2 separate regions of the Homo sapiens genome follow, and region 2 is linked to region 1. The links come from fine-mapping of genetic effects on gene expression. A gene starts in region 1. The other region holds a variant in brackets. All regions are shown on one strand. Distances are between the middles of the regions. Region 1 holds the start of RYBP (RING1 and YY1 binding protein). Region 2 overlaps LOC105377161 (a long non-coding RNA gene).

Region 1 (11,514 bases):
CTTGTAAACTCATCAGTGGCTTCCATCGCATTCAGGATAAAGACCTCACTCCCAACTCACTCCCTACCCTGCCATATGGATCTATCCAGCCACCTGCCTCTCCAGCCTCATTTCTCCTCTCTGGCGGGACTCTGGCCACAGCTGCTTGCCTTTAGCTCCTCCAAAGCACCAGACACCTGACTGCTTTTGCCTTTTTTTCTTGTGGGCAACTTAACTTTTTCAGGGGAGTTCCCGGCTCCACCGGCTACATCAACAACCTCCCTCTCTTAGCACCCTCTCACCTCTCATCTCGTATTTTGTCTTTGTAGCAATTGTCACAATTGTAATTACTTGTATAATGTCTGGCTCCTCAACTAGGAGGTAAACTCCAAAAGATTAGGAATGAAGTCTATTTTGTTTATCTGATCTTCCATTCCCTGGCATGAGCATGATAGCTAGTTGCTACTCAATATATTGTTAAATGAAAGAGATTTTTTTTTCAACGAATGTACACTAGTCAGTGTTCTAGGCACTTGATATATACTAGGTGGGATGGTGGGGGGAACACAGCAGAAAAATAAAATCCCTGCCATCATGAAGCATATATTCTACTGGGGCAAGGATCTGCTTAAACAAGATAACTGAACTGTGGGGTACATTAGAGAAAAAGTCTCCTCATTATAAGAGCCAAATGTAGGGTATGCTAAGGAGAGAAAAGTAGAGCAGGACAGAGGGACATGGGACATCAGGTTGTGGGTTGGTGTATGAAATTTTTAGATTGGGCCGGGTGCAGTGCCTCACGCCAATAATCCCAGCAACTTGGGAAGCTGAGGCCGGAGGATCTCTTGAGCCCAGGAGCTCCAGACCAGCCCGGGCAACATGGTGAAACCCTCTCTCTACTTAAAAAAAAAAAAAAGAAAAAAAAAGAAAAATTAGCTGGGTGTGGTATTACATGCCTGTAGTCTCAGCTACCCAGGAGGCTGAGGTGGAAGGATTGTCTGAGTTCAGGAGGTTGAGGCTATAGTGAGCCGTGCTGTGATCCTGCCACTGCACTCCAGCCTGGGTAACAGAGCAAGACTCTGTCTCCAAAAAAAAAAAAAAAAAAAAAAAGAAAAGGAAAGGAAAAGAAACAAAACACATGCAGATGTAGATTGCGTGACCAGGGAAAATCTCAGTGAGGAATTGACTTTTGCGTAAAGACCTGAAGGAATTGAGGCAGCTGACAATGAATGTGGGTATCTGCGCAAAGAGCATTCCAAGCCAAGGAAGCAGTAAGTGTGAAGGCTCTGAGGCCCTGAAGGTAGGGAACTGTTTTAGGAACAGCCAGGAAGCCGGTGTGAGTGAAGCGAATGAGGGGAAGGAAGTCAAAATGTAGACTTCGAATGTGTCTTATGTATCTGTGGAAACATTTATACTGGACATTTCTTGGCCAGTGCTTCTAACCAGCATCTACACTAAAACCACGGGTTTCAAACAATTTTTTTTTTCTCTTTGAAGCAGAGTCTCACTCTGTTGCCCAGGCGGGAGTGCAGTGGTGTGATCTCATCTCACTACAACCTCCGCCTACTGTGCTCAAGTGATCTTCACACCTCAGCCTCCCAAGTAGCTGAGACTACAGGAGTGCACCACCATGCCCGGCTAATTTTTGTATTTTTAGTAGAGACAGGGCTTCACCATGTTGGCCAGGCTGGTCTCAAACTCTTGGCCTCAAGTGAAACATTTGCCTCGGCCTCTCAATCAAATAATTTTTAAAGCAGTAGAACCCTTTTGTCAAATGAAATATGAAATGGAGGTTCAAGGGAGGAAACAGAGGAGCAGGGACTGGCTGGCAACTCTCACTGTTACTCTCACCCCATACTGGTCCAAGATGACATCTTAGAGGAAAATTAGTTCCCCACCCAGCTCAGCCTCTAAACCCCACTCCAGAATCACAGTACGCTCTGCCTAGAGCCACAGCACTCTGGAGCACACTGTACCAGAAATAGTCCCATTTGACTCATACAACTACAAGGAGACTTTCAATAGATATTTGCCTCCAACATCTGAATGAAATTAGAGCCTCTAAAGTTACAACCACATGGTGATCCTTGGGTCTGATAAGTTCCTAGAGATAGTTCTCTACTCTGAAATTGTTTTTCTTAAACACATTTTTTTGATTTTTTGGTTTTTTTTTTTTTAGACGGAGTCCTGCTCTGTCGCCCAGGCTGGAGTGCAATGGTGCAATCTTGGCTCACTGCAACCTCCGTCTCCCTGGTTCCAACAATTCTCCTGCCTCAGCCTACCGAGTAGCTGGGATTACAGGCGCCCATCACCACGCCCGGCTATTTTTTTTTTATTTTTAGTAGAGACAGGGTTTCACCATGTTGGCCAGGCTGGTCTCGAACTCCTGACCTCAGGTGATCCACCCACTCGGCCTCCCAAACTGCTGGGATTACAGGTGTGAGCCACCGTGCCTGGCCCTTCTTAAACACATTTTTAAAAACTTTTTCTTTTTTGAAAAGATAACACAAGACAAAGATACAAAACGACATACTAAAACAGTCAACCTCCTATGGATAAATTACAGTGTATTTGCAATGGAATTCTACACACTTAAGCAAACAAAAATGAACTATTGATGTAGGCAACAACGTGGATGGATATCACAAATATGCTGAGCGAAAGGTGCCAGCCAGACACAAGAGTACAGACCATATGACCCCTGCATATGACCTTAAAGAACAGGCAAAACTAATCTTTGGTGACAGAAGTCGGAATTGTGGTTACCTAAGTGAGGGATGACTCATTGGGAGGATAAAATGTTTTATTGTTCTAATGGTGGAAAGAGGGGTGTAGATGTATGCACTAAGCTGCAGTGTGAAAATTTGTGTATTTTATTCTATGTATAGAATAATAACAAAGTCTCCTTTCCACTACTATGGCTCCCAGCTACCTCCCCGGAGGCCACTCTTCCAGTGAGGATTTCTTAGTGCCCCGTTTCTGTCACGACCTTCATGCCAGGGGCAGAGTCCTGGGAGCATGCCAGGGAGACACCAGAGGCCAAGGCTGCTCCATGGCGCAGCTGCACTGGGCCATGGCTTGTGTACGTACCCTTTGGCTTTCTACGGCCCTTTTACCCCTAGAACGCTATCCCTCTCTCTTCCTCTTCCTTCTTTCATCCCTCCCCTAAGGAGGCAGCTGTGGCATTGAGGCCTTGAGAGGTTGCTGACCCTTGCTAAACAGTGTTGCTTCTCCTGGCCCTCCTGGGTGCGCCTGCCTGGAGAGGACACTGCGTGCTGATCAAACTTATTGTTGACACATTCATTCTCTCTTTTATTCTCTCCCTTCTGATCCCTGGACTGATCTCTAGGAATTTCTGCTCCCTGGGTGCTCAGTCTCAGTGAGCTTCCCTGGTGGCAAGCCCTGATATGCTTCCCTTCCATGGGGCAGTCCTGATAACAACCTATTTTATATTTGCATATAAACCTGGCTGAGGGTCTGTCTTAACTCCAATCCCCCCACCCCCGGGCCCCAACTCCTAGCAGCATTCTAAGACTCCGTCCCTCCCCTAACCTGGGGCTTCAGCACAGCCGCGTCTGTGTCTTTTATCATCTGGGGTCGTCCTCCTACCAGATCTCCCTGCCTGAGGACAGAGGGTCCTGAGTCACGTTCAAGTCAATTTGGCAAGCGTTTTTGGAGCAGGGCAGAAAGTGAAGGGCACTACCCTGTTCCTCGACTTCAAAAATCGAACGCGGGGGAAATGGTGCACAATTCAGGCCCAGTTATAATAGCTCCTAATACCCAATATCTTGTTTTGGTCCTTCGTGAATACCAGGCATCCATCAGCGAACCTTCCATGCCTGATTTCTCCGAATATTCAAAACAACCCTGGGAGGATGAGCCCCATTTTGGAGATGAAGGAGCTGAGGCACGAGGTTTTAATGCGGGCATGTGGTCGCCAGAATTTGAATAGCAACTTCCCTAAGGAAACGCCCTATTTAGACTCTAGGGGAGAGGAGGATCCCAGGAGGAGTCCGCCAGCAGAAGCTCAGAGTCTGGCCTGGGGGCATTTAGTTATGCCACGCCCTTTCTCTACTGTTCCCTCCCGCGACAGGGGCCTGACAGGGAGTGGGGCTTCGGGCCAGCGTCTCGGCCGGACGCAGGGACTTCAGAAGAGGCAAATACAAAGCTCCGCATGGCAGAGGAACAGAGGGGCGCGGGGGAACGCGGTCCAAAGGTGGACCTTGTCGGCCCCTGGGCACTGCAAGCCTCGAGGCGCTGCGAGCGGTGAGGCTGTTGCAAGCTCCCGCGGCGCGCGCAAACTGCGTGGAACTACTTCCCCGGGGCGGCTTCGGGGCCGGGGTCCCGGCAACAGCCTCACGGGGCGCCGTGCGGGGCCCGAAGCCAGTTGCCAGCTCCCGGGCGCGGCCACGTGCGCCCCGCCGGGCTTGCACGCTCCGCCGCGCCGGGCCGCGGGGCCACCGACAGGCACGCGCGCCCCCAGCGCGCACACACTCCCGGGCACGCACACCGACCGCCCGGCCCACGTCCGCCACGCCCCGCCTTCCCCCGCGCCCCGCCTCCGCCCTCGCGGCGCCGGCCGCCGCCCTCCCATTGGCCGCACGGCGCGTGACGCGCGGCGCCAGGCCCCGCCCCTCGTCAGTCACTCGGCGGAGGCGGCGCTGGCGGGGACTAGTCTCGTCCGGAGACTGTGATGGATTTAACCAGGTGGGGAGGGAGGGAGGGCGCGAGCTTGGGAGTGGAGAGGGAAGGAGCCGGCCCACTCCCCGTCGCCGGCCTCGGGCTGCCCCTGCGCGCCCCCTCCAGATCCGGCCCGCGGCTCCCCTCCCGGCCCCCCCAGCCCCACGCTCAAGTCCACAAGTCCGCCCGCTTCCTGCGCCCGCCGCGGCCCTTCCCGGGGCGCCGCCGCCACCGCCTGGTGTGCGAGGCTATCCGGCCCGGGCCCGGGGCTTGCAGGGTGCCAGTGGGGGCGCCCGGTTCCCTTCCTCGCTCTCTCTTCCAGTCCCCGGAAAGGGTGGGTGGGTGGTCTCCCGAGCGAAGTTTCCAGCACTGGATTCCTGCGAAATTACGACGGCTCACCCGCGTCTGTGTTTTGCTGTCTCTCCCCCGTTTTCCTGCTCCCTGCCTCTTCCCTCCCTTTTCCCCCACTCTCCACTCCTCGGAAGGCCAAAAAGACAAGCGAAACCTGCCGCAGACGAAGGGTTTTGGGATTGTAGCGTCTGCACCTTCAGAAACAGTGCTGAAGCCTTTAAATGCAGCATCTGCGATGTGAGGAAAGGCACCTCCACCAGGTACTTGAAGATCTGTGTTACCTTTTGTTAAAGGACTTTTTTTTTTTTTTTTTAAGTGAGAGGGTAGTGAGCCTTACTTTCTGCCCTTTTTCCAACTTGTTGATTACGGCTTTTTTTGTATTTGCGGGTGGGTTGTGTGTGTTTTTGGGTTGAGTGTATTAAGTGTTGGGTGAAAAGCCTTGTGTTCGCTAAATGATTTATGGGAGGGAATTTTTCCAGGTTTTCATTTTATTTCAAACGGACACTGGATTTATTTGACACTTGTGTCTATTGGCTTATTGGTATTGGCTGGGGAAGAGAGGAAGCAGTACTATCGCTATGGATTGTAGGACATAGATGTTTTATATTTTTGCCATGTGTAGAATGGTTTTAATTTGCCTGTCCCGAGTTACTTTTCTCTTGTCTGAGAAATTTAGTGGGGGTAGTAAGGCTGGCTGTGCTTTTCCTGTCTTGAGCTGCAAATGTCTGTTACTTTCTTGCACTTGAAAATAAATGTCGGTATTTGATAAAGTAAGTGCATTTTGTGGGAGACTGAGCTGTCAGTTTTTTTTTTCTTTGACTAGCTTATGTGGGGTGGTGATGGGGGACGATTTTGTAAAATGGTGAAATGAGCAGTGACTGTGGAAGTTTGTGTTTAAAGCTCTGTGATGATGAAAAGAATGTTGAAAGAATTCCTTTTCATTTTGATGAAGGTCGTAAACTGCATGTGATGTTAAAACGAGTTAACTACTTTAGATTTAACATTCATAAATACTTGGATAAAATGTCAAGACTCATGTAGTCTTTTGGTCATCTTTTAATTTATGTCTGAATTTGTTTCATTGGCGTTAGAGTTTGAAGTTAAACTGTTCTTGGTGTCATTTAATGAACAGGCATTGGGTGTGTGTGTGAGACAAGAATGAGTTTTTGGTGGATCCTTTAGAACATTACAGTTGATTGCCAAAAGTCTCATTTTATCAGGTACTTATTTTTGAATTGGTGACATTTCAGTGTGACTGTGTAGTAGTACTTCACAGTTCCAACTGGATATTGTTCTTTGATTAGATGAATATGTCATGTTAAGGTTTCATTGGTTTATTTATACTTGGGATTAAATAGGATTATTGGGCAACCTAAAATAATCTAACTCTGAGATTAATTGGCCTAATTATTGTTTCTGTGAATTGCACTCTTTAAATGATGATACCTTTGAATAAAAATAATCAAAAACTAAAAATATTACTCCATACGTTGTTTTAAGAAATTTTTGTCGGTGTTTTGTATTATCATGGAATATATCTAAAGTAAAAAACACGCATCAGTAGTTTCATAGATTTTGTTTTGCTGTCTAAAATAGGGAATTCCATCAAATGGCATGAAAGTTTTTAGAAATGTATTTGTTATTTAAAGCAGTAGTGATTGTATATTATTTATGAGTAATGTTTTTTACATGTAGAAGCCCTCAGAGGCCAAACCTCTTTATTGTGGTTTTGCTTTGAGTGTTACCGTAGATGGTGTTCAAGTAAATGATTAGGAAACTCCTAAGAACTTGAGAACATTACTGGTGAAGAGAAACGTAAACCAAATTCAAAAGTTTATGTCTGATTTATCGCTGGGAATGATTATCTCATAATGAAGTGCATTTCAGCTTTTAACATGTATTTTAAAAAACCTTACTCATCAATTTTTCGGAAGCACATGGAAGGTGTTGACTTTTAAAAAAGGTATGTATGTATGTTTAAAGTTTTTTCAGAGCCGCAGATGACTGTTGAAACTTAGTTAAAACTACTGAATTATTTACAGTGAAAATATTTTAGAGTCTATTCAGGAACAGGGAAAGGCGTCTACTTTAAGGGTCTTCGAGTAATTTTCTGATGTCATTTAATAGAATTTGAATACAGATTTAACAGGTGTGAGGACTGAAAACTGTGTGCATTCATGACACTCTTAGCTGGCCACAGTTGGTTTCATTTTGGTTATTGTCAATATTTTGGTGTTTTAGATCTATTCAGAAGTCATCGTTGGTTGGAATGCAAATAACGTTTTGGTTTTCCTACATTATGAACAGGTTTTATGTGGAGAAGTGAGTTTGACAGGTTTTCATCCTATCCTGTCTTGTGTGTTAACTGTTGGTTAATCCCTTTGTGATACTGGTTACTGCCATGTTTTTTTCTTGGCCCTCTTGTATTTTTTTTGTACCTCAAAAGTTTGAGTATGAACTTGACATTTTCTATCTTGTGTAGTTTTAATCAGACTTGGTATAGATTGATGGCAGTAGAAAACTTGTGTTTTGGATGCTGGGTAATAGGCAATATTTGTGATTTTTAGAATAATTTGTTTCGTGGCACAGAAATTGTATTTTATTGCTCTGAGCTGGTGTTATGTATTTTAACAATTCTAGCTAGTTGGCTAGCCGGTGGTTATTTTGCAGTTTTTGATCATTCTCATCACTGTCACCTTCATCTACCAGTCAACCAAGGAAACCACCTATGACTTAGTGGTAGGCCAGTATGATAGAGAACTATATTTGCCCTTTGAGGGTAGAATTGATATTGCTGATGTGATTGGGAAAATACTGCCATTCGTCTGAAGAACACTTATTAAATTCGTAGGATATGAAAGATGCTGCTGAAGGGATTGGAGAGAGGAGAGGGGAGTGTTAAAATGTTGATAAGCCGTGTATGGGAATGACCATAATTCCAATTATAAAGGCTGTACGGAAGCAGGGGTCTGGCTTAGGGAATCAGTTAGAAGGATTCCTTCTTCTCCACTTCTTTTGGACAAGGAGAATTAAAAAATCACCTGTCACCTTTTCACTATTACCATGTACGTCAGATATTTTTAGTTCTGCAGGTGGAATTGTTAAGGTGATTGAGAATGAGGTCTTTTTTTTCTTTTTGGAGCAGCAATAGAGCAGAATGAAAGGTGAGATGGTCTTAAGGAATCTGTTAAGGGAAGAAGGTGGCCTAGGCTGTGTGGAGGTTCAGGGGCAGCAGGAGAGATCTATATTTTAGATGTATTATCAGTATGTGTTGGGTGTCTTTGGTTTTTTGATAAACTTGTTTTTCTAACTAGACTGTCCACTCTTTGTGCCTTTTCTGGTTATATATATATCCTTTTGTTTGGAGACAGGGTCTTTCTCTGTCACCCAGGCTGGAGTGCAGTGGCATGCTCATGGCTCACTACAGCCTCAACCTCCGTGGCTCAAGCGATTCTTCCACCTGAACCTCCTGAGTAGCTGGGACTACGGGTGTGCACCATCACATCCGGCAAAGTTTTGTAATTTTTGTAGAGACAAGGTTTCGCCCTGTTGACCAGGCTGGTCTTGAACTCCTAACCTCAAGTGATCTTTCTGCCTTGCAGGAGTGAGTGATAATTTACTTATAACACCCATTGTAAGTCTGCAAATCAGTGATTTCTAGTCATTTTAAAGAGTTGTGCAGCCATCACGGCAACCCAGTTTTAGAACATTTCCATCATGTCAAATGGTTTCGTTATATCCGTTCTGTAAGTCTAACAGAACAGAATGGAGAAGTCATGGGCAACAGGTTGCTTCCCTACCATGCTGATGTACCCTGAGCCTTTCAAGGTAGAAAATAAAAGTGCATGTTAGAATGTGTGTGTAAGGTGGCAAGTGGCTGGGGGAGAAACACTATCCCTTTCTTAAGTGGTAAAGTAGTATTTCCCATCCTGCTTTGCCAGTCTCAAGAAAGAGGATACCGGCTTTTAAAAGTAGAAGAAAAAAACTACAAATGCATGAATGTACCCAACTGTGTGTGTTTTTTTTTTCTTTGTATTTTCCACCTTCCTACACTTCCAGCTGATGTTTTTTTTGTTGTGGTGGTGGTTTTTTTTTTTTTTTTTTAAATGAAGAGACAAGGTCTTGCTATGTTGCTCAGGTTGGTCTTGAATTCCTGGCCTCAAGGGATCCTCCTCCATTGGCCTCCCAAAGTGCTGGGATTTGCCCAGCCCCTAACTGTTGTTTTGTTAAGTTGCATTTCTCAAGATTGGGCAGAGTAGCTTCCTAGACTTGGTGATTTAATTTTACTTTTCTTGTCTTGTTATTTCTCTGCATTCAATGTTACCTTAATTGTAAAATAAAAATTACCAAGACATTGCTGAATATAGTTGTTGATTAGTGTTCCCTTGATAGTAGTCCTGCATTTTTACTTTCAGCTACTGCTTAATCACATTCATTTGCAAAATTGGAAAATTTTTACTTTGGCTAATTACCATAGGTTTAGAACTTTCTGGTCTTCAGCTCCAGAAATGTATCGCTGTGTTGAGATCATGTTTTATTTCATCCATGTTTATTTGAATACTGCCCCTCTGAAAAGCTGACTGTTTTTGGAGCTTTTATACACAAGTATGAGTGAGGAAATTACTTTAGGTGTAGAATAAAATTGTGTAGAAATAATTATCTTTGAAAAAATTTGGTATTCAGGATATTGAATTGGAAGTGTTGAAGAAGCAGCTGTTTTGTGTGTAATACGTTTCTCTTGTTTGAGAATTTACCAGTTTTTTGCAGTTGTAGCTTTGAACTATCCATTCCCCCCTTAAATTTAGATACCCTGACAACCAAAAATCTCTTGAATTGTCATGAAGTACTTTAGTAGAAGTTTTATGGAAAAACACAACATAGCTATGATCTTTGCTGGAAGCTTCAAAAAGGCATCATCGTGTGATGCTTTTTAGGTAGAAAAACTCCCAGAAATAAGATAAGGTACCTACACTGGGCAAAGCCCAAGCCTCTTACTCATGTTTCCTGGTAATCCACAGCAGTGGTTTTGCTCCTTTCATGACATTGTTTTTGTTGTAGTGTTTGTCTTTCATAAAAATTCTCCATAAAAATATATAAAAATTACCTGTCTTCCAAATCAAACTTTTATCAAACCTTCCAAGCTGAAAGCTGGTACAATTTAAGATCATTTTACCCAGGAACAGAGTAATAATTTATTTTGTGTTTACTGTTTCATTGGACTTACTGATTTATTGGTGGTGACTTGATCTTATGTGTACTTGGTGACCTTAAAGTAAATTACCTGGGTAGTTGTGGTCATTTGACAAGTTTTTATTGAGCACACAGCCATTTGCGCTCTTGGTGTACAGTGGTATAAAGACAGACCAGGTCCCTGTTCTTACGGAGCTTAAAATACTATGGAAAGGAAGAGAAAATAAACTAACAGAAAAATAACAATTTCAGCTGGCGACAAGTGCTACGAAGAATTTAGAGAAGGGTAAGGAACTACAGAGTGATGAGAACTGGGTGGAGTGACTGCTTTATAGACAATGTTGAGATAATGCATTTAATTTTTTAGGAAAAAGTAATGCTACTTCCTTTTGGAGCCGGGGATAATTCTTATGTAGGTTTACCTGTGCCATTTAGCTCATTTGGTTGGGGGACAGACAGCTTTTAGATTTGGAGCCCTTGTGCATAGGCTGCTAAACTTATAAACTTAGTTCCATGTTGTAGACTAAACCTAGGCCAGCTAATTTACTAGTATTGTTAGTCATTAGGGTGGGAGATTATGAATGGATTCACTTACATATTATTTATTCATGTGGCATATATTTGTTGTGTATTTCAGTAGGTGCTGAAGAAAATTCCAGGATTAAGAAAAACTTTCTCAAGTAGCTGTAGTTTACCAAAATAGTTATCAGAACTAATTTGGTTCATTAGGACTTTGAGTAAATAGTAGGTCTCTCGTGTCCTAAATGACTTGAGCTAACACATTCTGCAGTCTTTCTGGCACTTCTTTTCTCTTTTGCCTCATCACCCATGCTTTTTCTCTTTGTGGCATCTTCTGTGTTACTTTTCATAACTAGTACTCCCACTTCCCTTTTTACCTATAGATACAAACTTTTTCAACGGTCGCATACATAGAAGTGCACAAATCGTAAGTATAAGGATTTGATAAAGTTTTGCAGAATGAGCATATCTTTGCCACTAGCACCCAGATTGATTTTTTTTTTTTTTTTGAGACAGGTATCTGGCTCTGTTGCCCAGGCTAGAGTGTGGTGGTGTAATCACAGCTCACTGTAGCCCCTACTTTGAGGCCCAGGTGATACTCTCACCTCAGCCTCCTGAGTAGTTGGGACCATAGACATGTGCCATCATGCCTGGCACATTTTTAAGGGCTTTTTTTTTTTCTTTTTGTGAGACACGGTCTCCCTATGTTGCCTAGGCTAGTGTCTTATTTCTGGGCTCAAGCGATCCTCCCGCCTCAGCCTCCCAGAGAGTTGGTATTATAGGCATGAGCCACTG
Region 2 (11,514 bases), 140 kb before region 1:
TCCCCACTGACCTGCCCATGTTTCTTTAAACTGCCAAGTAAACCAGGTGCTCTGAGTCCCTGTCTCAGGGTTACTTCCTCCGGGACTAAGACAATGGGATCATGAGAAGAAGAAGAAGGATGGTTGTGAGGATATTGCAATTGCTGAACAGTGTGAGAGCATAGAGACTGCTTGGCACAGGATATGTCCTCAAATCAGTGATAACTATCATTCATAAGACTCAAAATGTACCTGAGAGACGACAGCGCTTTACATTGAGAAAGCAAAGCTGCACAGGATTGAGTAGTTGAGGCAACAGGCAATGTAGATATTAAGAGGAGAAAGGGGAGAGCTGAAAAGGAGAAACACTTACGTTAGGCCCCACGAAGAAAGCAGGGAAGCGACTGAGTTACACAGCCACATCCACGGGCACTGGAAGAGCACCTGGCTCACCAAGGGTCCTCAGCGCTCCCTTTTAAGCTTTCAACACCCCTTGATGCTCCCCTCTTAGCATTGAGTCAAAGCTGGAATTCAATAACTATTTGAGGCTGGGCATGGTGGCTCACACCTGTAATCCCAGCTCTTTGGGAGGCCAAGGAGGGTGGATCACCTGAGGTCAGGAGTTTGAGACCAGCCTGGCCAACATGGTGAAACCCCATATCTACTAAAAATACAAAAATTAGCTGGGCGTGGTGGTGGGCACCTGTAATCCCAGCTACTTGGGAGGCTGAGGCAGGGGATTGCTTGAACGCAGGAGGCAGAGGTTGCAGTGAGCTGAGATTGCTCCACTGCACTCCAGCCTGGGTGACAGAGCAAGACTCTGTCTCAAAAAATAATAATAATAATTAATAAATAAATAACTGAAAATTTGGCAAGTTTGAATAACATTCGTCTTTCTTGCACAATTTTAAGATTCTGAAGCGGAGGACAGGCTGTGTCTGTTCAGCATTGTATCCCCAATGCCCAACACACAGCCTAGTATATGTTAGGTCTACAATAGATGAGGAAACAGATACGTGAATGAATGACTGTCAAAGGAAGGGACAGGCATAGTTAAGAGCTAAGCCGAGCTAGTCTCGGAGCAGGTTGGAGCAGGCCAGCTGAAAGTCCTAGTGAAGGGCTTGGTTTGGCAGGAATGGAAAAAGGAAGAATTGTAAAAAGGGAGGCTCAGGACAGGTTTCGGAGGGCTTTGGGTGCTGAGTTAGGAGTCTGGGCTTTTATTCCAACAGTAATTGGGAGCCATCAAAGGGCCTTGAGCTAGGAGGGAGATGACATGGTAGAAAAAGGATTTTGCTTTGTTTTTTTAAGAAGACTCTTCTGGCACTTTCCTTGGCTGTGATAAAGAGTTTTGATATCCCCTAATGCCAGTGGGTTTCTGGGAACTTGAATGAGATAATATATCGGCAGTGCCTAGCACAGTGCCTGGCATCTACTCATAGGATGCACCCAATAAATGCTAGTTACTGTTCTTGTATGAAGTGTAAATAAAATACTTTATTAGTGTTTTACAAAAGAGATTGTAAATAGAGAAGAGCAGAAGGCCATAGCCTGAGACCAGAGGAAAGTGGTCACCTACACCAGGGAAGGAGCGGCTGGAGAGAAGGAAGGTGTTGTGGACACTGTAGTGTGCTGCCTAGATCCCCTTTTGGGGAGGGACTGATTCCCCCAGCTGCTGGCAACACTGTTGGAATGAATGGCCCGTGGCTAAATAACACCACCTTGCCCAAAGCCTTGCCTACTTCCAGGGAGCCCACCCCCAGCGACTGATCAACCGGGTGTGTAAAGACCTGATTCTTTTGCTCCAACTCAGTGCCCCGAATGCCTGTCCCTGTGGAGCTGGCTGAGGCCTTTGCTGAGACTATTTCACAATTCAGCTTCTCCCTCCCAGTCCTGCTTCCCTCTGCTCCCTCCACGGAGTGATGCTGAGAGCACTCCCTGATCATCTCCATCTTAGAGACAGCTTACCAGGGGAGTCAACCTGCAGCAGGAGAGCTAGGTAGAACAGCGCCATGGAGACCTAGGCAGGAGAGCTGTCTAGAGGGAGGAGGTGAGTGAGAAGACCATATTGAAATGGGAAAAGTTCCCTTGTCCCCTTCACAGGGTGTGTGTGGCTCGCTTCTTCAGTGCCCCGCTGCTCAAACCTCTAGGGGGAGCAGGCAGATGGGCAGGCTGTGGGGCTCCCATCCCAAGGCAGCATCTAGGGGTGAATACTTATAGCTCCTGAAGCCCCAGTGGGCATGTGTTATGGGGTGCTCTTTTAGTTTTGCCATTTGTAGGTGGCTTGTGTTAGTCAGCTCTATTAGACTCCCTGCCTTATCACAAGGACAGAGGGCTTTCTGTATCCCAGGGTTTCTTGCTTTGGTGTACTGGAAGAATCGGATCACATGTGGGCTTGGAGAATGAATGCAAGGTTTTATTGAGTGGAAGTAGCTCTCAGCAGATGGGGGAGCTGAAGGGAGATGGAATGGAAAGGTGGTTTTCCCCTAGAGTCAGGCCGCTCAGCAGTGGGGCTCCCCTCCAACTGCCCCAGCCAAACTCCATGTTGTTGTGCTGGTCGATGGCCTGCCAGCCTGCAGGTGCCTGCCAGTGTGCTCCTGACGTCCAGCTGCTTGTGTGTTCTTCGGCTGGTGTGTTCTGCTCAATGGCTCAGCTACTTCTTGTGTGCATACCCACTAAGGTCTCCGGTTTATTTACAGCACAGGATCAGGGTGTGGCCGACCAGGGTGGCCTTGGGAAATGCAACATTTGTGCATGAAGGCAGGAGTGCCTGTCTTCACCTAGGTCCATAGGCTCGGGGGTGGAGCCGTAGCCAGGCACCATGCCCTTCCCTTCCCAGCACTTCTCTGCCCATCTTCCATATCAAAATGGTGCCATGAGAGCAGGAGAACAAGATCTGAGAAAAGGCCTCTGGATTCAGCAACTAGGAAGCCGGCATGAGCCCAGTGCATTCAATGAGTCCAATTAATGGCAGAGGCTGAAAAGGTGATGCTGGAGTGAAACAAAGACCACAGGTGCAGAGAGTCTAGAAATTAGGCTAGGAAAGAAGACAAACTGTGAGAAGACAGCCTGAGAGGTGCCCGGGTCCTGTCACGCAGCCTCTGGATCTGGCTTATTTTGTTAAAAACAACCAAGGATTCCCATCAGAAAACCCTCCGACCACATGTTCAAGAGACACCAAATATCTCTTTAACCGTGAGACTTTAAAAGGGCAATTTGTTTTTTGAGGATCTAGAATGCAAGCCTTAGGGATGTCATTTCCCCAGCACTGAAAACACTGCAGCAATCTCGATACTGGGCATTTTTGTAAAATGAGAATCACTGTCCACCCTGCTAAGCCTCTCGCACTCTCCCTCGTCCTCCAAGGACTCTTCAGGGTCTGCTCTTTGAACCCCAGTCCTATGCCTCTTCCCTTTTGGCCTCCTTTGGCACAGATTATTTCAACAAATAGTTATTGAAACCAACAAAATGACATCAAGTCAAAAGCAGCTCATTGAAATTCTTTTCCTCCTCTACTTCCACCCCCACTCCCCAGGCTGGGACAAAGAAAGCGTGGAATATATTCAGAGCCCACCAGCTCTCAGACAAAACTGGCCTCCCCAATTTCCTGGTGGACTGTGGCTGATTCCCACCCTAGTGCTGTGTCCCCCACCTCTTCCAGGGCCCTCTCCTAAAGATGCCTATGTAAAGTGTGGCCCTCCTCAGAAGAACCCAGTTTCTGGGGTCCTCAGACCCAGGCTTCTCTCTGGGTTGAAAACAAAGTCCAGATGCCCACTCACTGCTGATGGGAACATTAAATGGTGCAAGCACTTTGGAAGGCAGTTTGGCAGTTTCTTAAAAAGTTAAACTTACCATTTGATCCAGCCATTATACTCTTAGATATTTACCCAAGAGAAAGGAAAGTTGATGTCCATGCAAAGACCTGCACAAGAATGTTCGAATGTCTATAGCAGCTTTATGTGTGATTGCCCCAAACTGAAAACAATCCGAGTGCCCTTCAGTCGCTAAATGCGTAAACAAAACGTTGTGCATCCATACAGTGTCCTGCTACTCAGCAGTCAAAAGGAATAAGTTACCGATGCTGACAACAATACAAAACTCTAGAAAATGGAACCTAATCTATAGTGACAGAAAGCAATGGTTGCTCAAAGGGGAGATTGGGAAGAGGTGGAAAGGAAGGTATATTAGTCTGTTCTCACACTGCTGATAGAGACATATTCAAGACTGGGTAATTTATAAGAAAAAAGAGATTTAATGGACTCACAGTTCCACATGGCTGGGGAGGCCTGACAATCATGGTGGAAGGTGAAAGGCACATGTTACATGGCAGCAGGCAGAAGAAATGAGAGCAAAGCAAAAGGGGTTTCCCCTTATAAAACCATCAGATCTCATGAGACTCATTCACTACCACGACAATATGGGGGAAGCTGCCCCCATGATTCAGTTATCTCCCGCGTGGTCCCTCCCACAACACATGGGAATTGTGGAAGCTATAATTCAAGATGAGATTTGGGTGGGGGCACAGCCAAACCATATCGGAAGGATTAGAAGACACACAAGGAAACTTTTGGGGGGAATGGCTATGTTCATTACCTTGATTGTGGTTATAATCACACCGATGTATGAATAAATCAAAACTCATTGTATTGCATGCCTTAAATATGTGCAGTTTACTATATGTTAATTATACCTCAATAAAGCTGTTCAAAAAAAATTTTTTTAAGCAAAGTCCAGGAGAAGGAAGGCACCATGGCTTAGTTAAAGAGTAAAATCTTTCTCACAGAGAAAGTGCTCTGTTCCTGGGTTGACATGACATGAGCTGACATTTCAGCCTCTACTTCCTGGACATTGGACCAGGTGCTATATTGTTGGAATCACCCCTGCAATTTTATTTTTTTATTTTAAAAATGAAGACAGGATCTTGCTGTGTTGCCCAGGCTGGTCTCAAACTCTCAGGCTCAAGCAATGCTCCCACTTTGGTCTCCCAAAATGCTGGGATTACAAGCATGAGCCACCACACCCAGCCACCCCTGCCAGTTTAGAACTGAGTAGATTTGCTTTCTACTTGATTCCTGTATTCCAAAAAACCAAGCAAAGAATAGTTAGGAAATATTAGGTTTGGTGAACAAACAGTGAAAGGTGGGTCATATTTAAGAGAAAAGAGGAACTGTCTCTATTGGTCAAATTCCTAGAATTTGCCGTATGGTCACAATTAAATTGGGGCCAGTGTGGTGGCTCACATCTGTAATCCCGTGCTTTG[A/G]GAGGCCAAGGGAGGAGGACTGCTTGAGCCCAGGAGTTTGAGAGCAGTATGGGAAACCTGGTGTGACCTTGTCTTTACAAAAAATTTAAAAATTAGCTGAGCTTGGTGGTGTGCACCTGTGGTCCCAGCTACTCGGGAGGCTGAGGTGGGAGGATTGCTTGAGCCTAGGAGTTCAAGGCTGCAGTGATCTGTGATCACTCCAGCCTGGGTGACAGAATGAGATCCTGTCTCAAAAAAACAAAAAACAAAACAACAACCAAACCTAAATTGGGCTTATTTGTAAATGTGACTCTTTCCCTAAATGTTTAGAAGCATTCATTTACTCCTTTCAAAAGAAATGTATATGTATGTTGCTTTAAGTGAATGCATGACATTTATTGTATTGATGAACCATGGTTTATTTGGCTTTCTTCAGTAACCTTCTTGTTGGATGTTTAGGTTATTTCCAATGTTTTACTGTTATATATCATAGCAGACAATTTGGTCAAGAGCAATTTGGCTGGAAGCAAATTGATTAAGCTGTCAGTATGGTTGGAATGCTGAATTCGTTGATAATGAAAATTCTCAGTCACTATGTTTATACAAAAAGGAAATTTTTGTTTGCCAAGGGGAAATTTTGCCTGGAATGATATTCCAACTCTTTAAGCATCTTTCAGCAAAATAATCATTTAAAAAAAAATCTAAAGTTTTGTTTTCTTCTTTTCAACACCTCCCTATTTCCAGTCAATTATGCCCTGGTGGCTGGGTGCAGTGGCTCACACCTGTAATCCCAGCACTTTGGGAAGCTGAGGTGGGCGGATCACTTGAGGCTAGGAGTTCGAGACCAGCCTGGTCTGTGGTCAGTGTGCTGGTTAGTAGGCCCAGTGTTAGTAGGGTAGTGGATTTAAAGTGAAATCATATAGCTAGGCCAGATGTTATTAGGAGGGCTGAGAGAGCTCCTGTTAATGGCCAAGGGCTGGGCTTAACTATGTGGTAGGCGTGTGTTTGGTGGGTCATTATGTATTGTCGTGTAGGTAAAGTCTTACTAAAAGTGTGAAGACTTAAGCTTGGATGAAGGCAACAGCGAACTCAGCCTGGCCAACATGGCAAAATCTCGTCTCTACTAAAAATACAAAAATTAGCCAGGCATGGTGTCAGCGCCTGTAATCCCAACTACTTTGGAGGCTGAGGCAGGAGAATCACCTGGGAAGCAGAGGTTGTGTAAGCCAACATTGTGCCACTGCATTCTAGCCTGGGCAACAGAGTGAGACTCTGTCTTTAAAAAAACAAAAAAAACGCTCTGGTTTGGGATTAGACTAACAAAGAAGCAACTGAAGCAACTATCGCCTAAAAGATGGAAACGATCCTAGTGTTCACCATTTCATGTCTTGGATAGAATGCTCAAAATTTATGATATTTGCACTAGTGATTGAAAAACTAATCCTGGTTCAATTTACTAAATTAATACTTTCAGGAAAACATGGCTAAGAAAACAGAGGAAGAATCAGTTACAGAAAATAAAGCCTCTCCAGACTTTTTGTTTTTTTCGGTGCAAGTAAAGTTCCTAGTATTATCCCTATTCAGGTAGAGGGGGAAAAAAAAAAAAAAGGGTAATCTCTGGCACCTGGGAACCAGTGTGATACAGCAGGGCCATGGTGTTCTGCTGTTGGACAGACACAATCTCATAGAACACAGACAAGGTCACTCTGCAACCAGGATAAAGTAAACTGAAAAGAAGGTCATTGTGTAACCCATAAGATACCAAACATCTCTTTTTCTCACCAAACACGAGTGACTGTTGCTTCTTTGTCAATTACAGCTTTATCCTTGATTTAGTTTGCCTTCCGTATACGTAAGACTTATTGTGATACTGAATTCTAGAATTGTGGTTGCTTTCTGACAGCACTGAATCTAGAGTGAGCCTGTTTCCTTAAGCCTTCCGCCAGATCACTCAACCAAAGCCCAAATCCTGTAATAGATTCTTTCTAACACCCTCTACGGAAACTACCACAGTTCCCCATGGTATTCATGCTCTCTAGTTTCTACCAGTAACAAAACCAACTTGTTCAACAACAGGTGTGTTCCTGGGTGGTCTTTGGCTGAAGGGCATTGACAAGGTTCTTTAATTCTTTGTTCCTTTTATTTGTTTTCTTTCAATAGCTAGGCTTTCTCTTTTCAGGCAAAACAGGAAAACCAGACCAGCAGAGAGGAGAGAGACCAGCAATCAGACCCTCCCAGAGACAATCATTGTTAACATATTGGTGCGGACCTTTCCTAATTTCTTTTCTATAGATATGTTATAATTTTCCTCTTTAAAAATAGAACCAAATTATTCTATTTTTTAGTTGATTTTTTTTTCCAACTTATGACAGCGATGGTTAAATTTTATGCGTTACCTTGGCTAGGTTATGGTGCACAGTTGTTTGGTCAAACACCAATCTAGATGCTGCTATGAAGGTATTTCACAGAGGTAATGCGCATCTACAATCAGCTGACTATAAATAAAGGAGATTACCTTTGATAATGTGGGTGGGCTTCATCCAATCATGTGAAGGTCTTAGAGCCGAAACTGAGGTTTCTTGGAGAGGAAGGATCATGGAAATCTTCCTCAGTTTCCAGCCTGACAGCCTGCAGATTTCAGACTGGGATATAACATCAACTCTTGTCTGGGTTTCTAGCCTGCCAGCCTACCCTACAAATTTCAGACTTGGCAGACTCCGCCAATCATGTAAGCCAATTCCTTAAAATCTCTCTCTCTCTTTCTGAATTCTGTTTCCCTGGAGAACCCTGATGGACATAATGACCACCTTTTGATGTAAACAGAGGCATACAGCTCTATCCTGTCTCTACCATATCCCTTAAAATGAGGCACACCCATCGTATGCTTGCGCTGTCCTTTAACCAACTCCCTATTGACAGACATAAAACAATTTGTTTCTTCTTATTATTAGCAGACCAGAGCATATTTAATTGTCTGAAAGGGAATTAGAAATTTTAAAAGTAGAGGAGAATGAAATCCCCCAAATTCTGAAAGATACTTAACTTTTTTTTTTTTGTCTAAAGGAACAAAAAGGTCATAAAGCTACTCCACAGGGGATCGAAATTACCTGCACCCATGATTGCAATATTCTTTTCAACCAAATTGTCACAGAGACTACACTGCTATTGCCACCATTGTGTTTTCAACCAAATCCAATGAAGCCACTGTAAACGAGGCTATGATAGGACATTCTTGTAATATTTCCTTACATTAAATTCTCAGAAGTGGAATTGCTGAGTCAAGCAATCTGCACTTTTAAAGCTTGAGATCTATAATTGTCCCCTTGGGATTAATTCCAATTCATGTGTTTATTAGATAAAGTTTTTGAGCACCTCCTATATATATGCTGGAGTGTGCCAGGCCTGGAAAACAGAGACAAATAAGCTATATCCTTGGCTTTAAGGAGCTCATGGCCTCTTTCAGTTGCCTTTCTGCCTAGCACAGTGAGCCAACAGAAGGCTCTCAACACATATTTGTTAAATAAATAAGTGGATGAATGAATAAATGAATGAATGCATATCAGTTGGCTTTTCCTGTGTAGCAAACTACCTTATCATAGGCTTAAAATGACAGTTATTATTTTTTATGATCCCATGGGTCAGTTGGGTGGTTCCTCTTGTGTGGGGTATGTGGCTGATCTCCATGGGCAGCTGGTGGCTCGGCTGGGGCTGTATGATCTAGCATGGCCTCACTCACCTATCCGGCATTAAGCAGGCTAACTGGTCCTGAAGGGCTTCAGTTGGGAGGGCTCATCTCTGCTCCAGGTAGCCTCTCATCCTCCAGGTGGCTAACTCAGGCTTGTTCATATGGTGGACTCAGGGTTCCAACGAGCAGCAAACAAGGGCAAGTGCCAAGGTACAGTACTATTCAAAGCTCTACTTGCGGGGCTGGGCACAGTGATTCATGCCTGTAATCCCAGCACTTTGGGAGGCTGATGTGGGCAGATCACTTGAGCCCAGGAGTTGGAGACCAGGCTAGGCAACATGGTGAAACTCCATCTCTACAAAAAATAGAAAAATTAGCTGGTCATGGTGGCCTATGCCTGTAGTCCCAGCTAATTGGGAGGCTGAGGTGGGAGGATCACTTGAGCCTGGGAGGTTGAGGCTTTAGTGAGCTGAGACTGTGCCTCTGTACTCCAGCCTGGGCGACACAGTGAAACCCTGTCTCAAAAAAAAAAAAGAAATCTCTACCTGGGCCACATTTGCTGCTTTCCCATCAATCGAATCAAACCTCACAGTAAGCCCAGAGTGAGTATAGAAGGGTGTGGACCTAGGGTATGGCTCTCGGGAGGAAGATTCAGCGGCATTTTGGCAGTCTGTGCAGAAAAGATGTGCCTTTGCTTCTAAGCTCATGGCCTGTGTCCATTTACCTAGATGTTTAAGTGGGAAACTTGGTTCTTTGTTTTTGAAATTACACTTTGAACCCTGAACTTTTCCGCTACATATGTTTAGCTCTGCCTTCAAAGAAATAACCCAGTGTGTGTGATTCCGGAGGCCGTGGCTAAGAAAACCGTTTCTGGGGCCTCAAATGCATGTTCACCACCGTGTGCTTTGACCTTTTCCTTCACAAGTGTGGCGAATGATAACTCATTGTTGCTGAAGCCACTGGTGACTTATCTGATCTCTCCTCACGAGCACAGATAAAGTTCAATCTTTACCCTGGTCCCCCATCACATAGCCTATTGGCACTTCATTTGCTCAGCACTTGGAAGGTGACTGAATGTAAAATTCCTTAGCATCAATTAAACATTTGGCTCAGGATAGCAATGTGAGAGACCTTTTGGGGCAAAAGGGGTGCCTGTCATTAAAAAAAAAACTGTGCCGATTTTCAAAGAACAGTTGCTAAAAGATCCCTTTACTACCACTTCTAGCCTGGAAATCTCTGCCTGCTGTTAAACACACGTGGCATGTTCGAAATGGGAGAAAATAGCTGGTAGAAATCTCTTGCATTCTTTACTTGAGAGGGCACAGAGGTTAATTTGGGAATAGTTCTCTAATGGAAGCCAGATTGGGGAAAGTTAGGAAACAAATTTAAAAATCATGTCTCCAAAGTAAGTGAGAAAGATGCTTTATTTATTTATTTTGCATTCAAGATAAATAATCATTTATCAAAATTTTGGTGTTTTGTTTGTTTGTTTTTTGAGAGAGACACATTTTTATGGCATGGGCCACCACGTGCATGGGGCTGTCTCGGTCAGTTAAATGAATAGGATGATCTTAATAGCTGCAATTTATTCTCCCTTTGGGGACATCAGGTTCAGAAGACCATTCTATAAGCTGTTTATTCTGGCGTATTTGATTCTGAGAAAGTCTTTTGACGTTTTCATATGGAAAAGCTTCCCTGCGAATGCAGATTCAGCCAAGTTTACCTTCTAAATTCTTCCCTTTCCTGTTGTCACCCACTCCACAAACACCACACACACACATACGCACACACTGAGACCCCACACACATTTGTCTTGTTGCCCTAGGAACAGTGTAGAACAGTGCTTCTCAAATTATCTGGGCATAAAAGGTCAGTTTTTGAGATTTCTTTTTTTGTTGTTTGAGACAGAGTCTTGCTCTGTTGCTCAGGCTGGAGTGCTGTGGCACAGTCTTGGCTCACTGCAACCTCCAGCTCCTGGATTCAAGCGATTCTCATGCCTCAGCCTCCCAAGTAGCTGGGGTTACAGGCGCCCGCCACCACTCCCAGCTAATTTTTGTATTTTTAGTAGAGAGGGGCTTTTGCCATGTTGGCCAGTCTGGTCTCGAACTCCTGACCTTAAGTGATCCGCCCGCCTCTGCCTCCCAAAGTGATGGGATTACAGGCATGAGCTACTGCACCCAGCCAATGTTTGAGATTTCTAATCCATTGCAGACCAATACAGTAAAATACAATTGACATAATTTAATGGAAAAAAATAAAACCAAGGCATACAAAATACGAGCTCAGTGTTTTTTATTATTAGATTCAGCAGACATAAAATCACTCAGTTAAAGTGCTTTATAAGTTTTGAAACACACTCAATGTCTGTATTTAATTAGTTGCAAATCGGTAATAGCCAGTGGACAAGCAGTACCAGTTGGTGGCCCCCACTTACACAGCACCTATCTAGAACAACCCCATTTCAGTGGCCAACCGAGTGCCTAGCAAACGTCCATCCGCATACTCATCCACATATCATTCACGCATTTATCGAGCCTGTGTTCCACACTGGGAGCTCTGTGAGACACAGGTAAAACTACAAACCCATCCCTGGCTGCTGTGATTGGGGAGCCCA

What was found. PIP is the estimated chance that this variant, and not a neighbour inherited with it, causes the effect.
Region 2: its variant is the best candidate, but not a certain one, in a credible set for the expression of RYBP in whole blood (TOPMed, PIP 0.57).

The regions. Positions count from the first base shown.
Region 1 is chr3:72,440,252-72,451,765 of GRCh38, reverse strand. It overlaps RYBP (RING1 and YY1 binding protein), which reads left to right and starts at 5,143. Exons shown (of 4, transcript NM_012234.7): 1 at 5,143-5,270. The coding sequence starts at 5,143. RefSeq lists silencers at 4,297-4,706, 4,767-4,826 and an enhancer at 11,309-11,408.
Region 2 is chr3:72,578,088-72,589,601 of GRCh38, reverse strand. LOC105377161 (a long non-coding RNA gene) reads left to right here. Exons shown (of 11, transcript XR_940962.3): 11 at 7,395-7,472. It also overlaps the pseudogene MTCO3P47. Among named protein-coding and RNA genes, the nearest start is that of RYBP, 140 kb to the right of the region's middle. The variant A/G (reference allele first, on the strand shown) is at 5,237.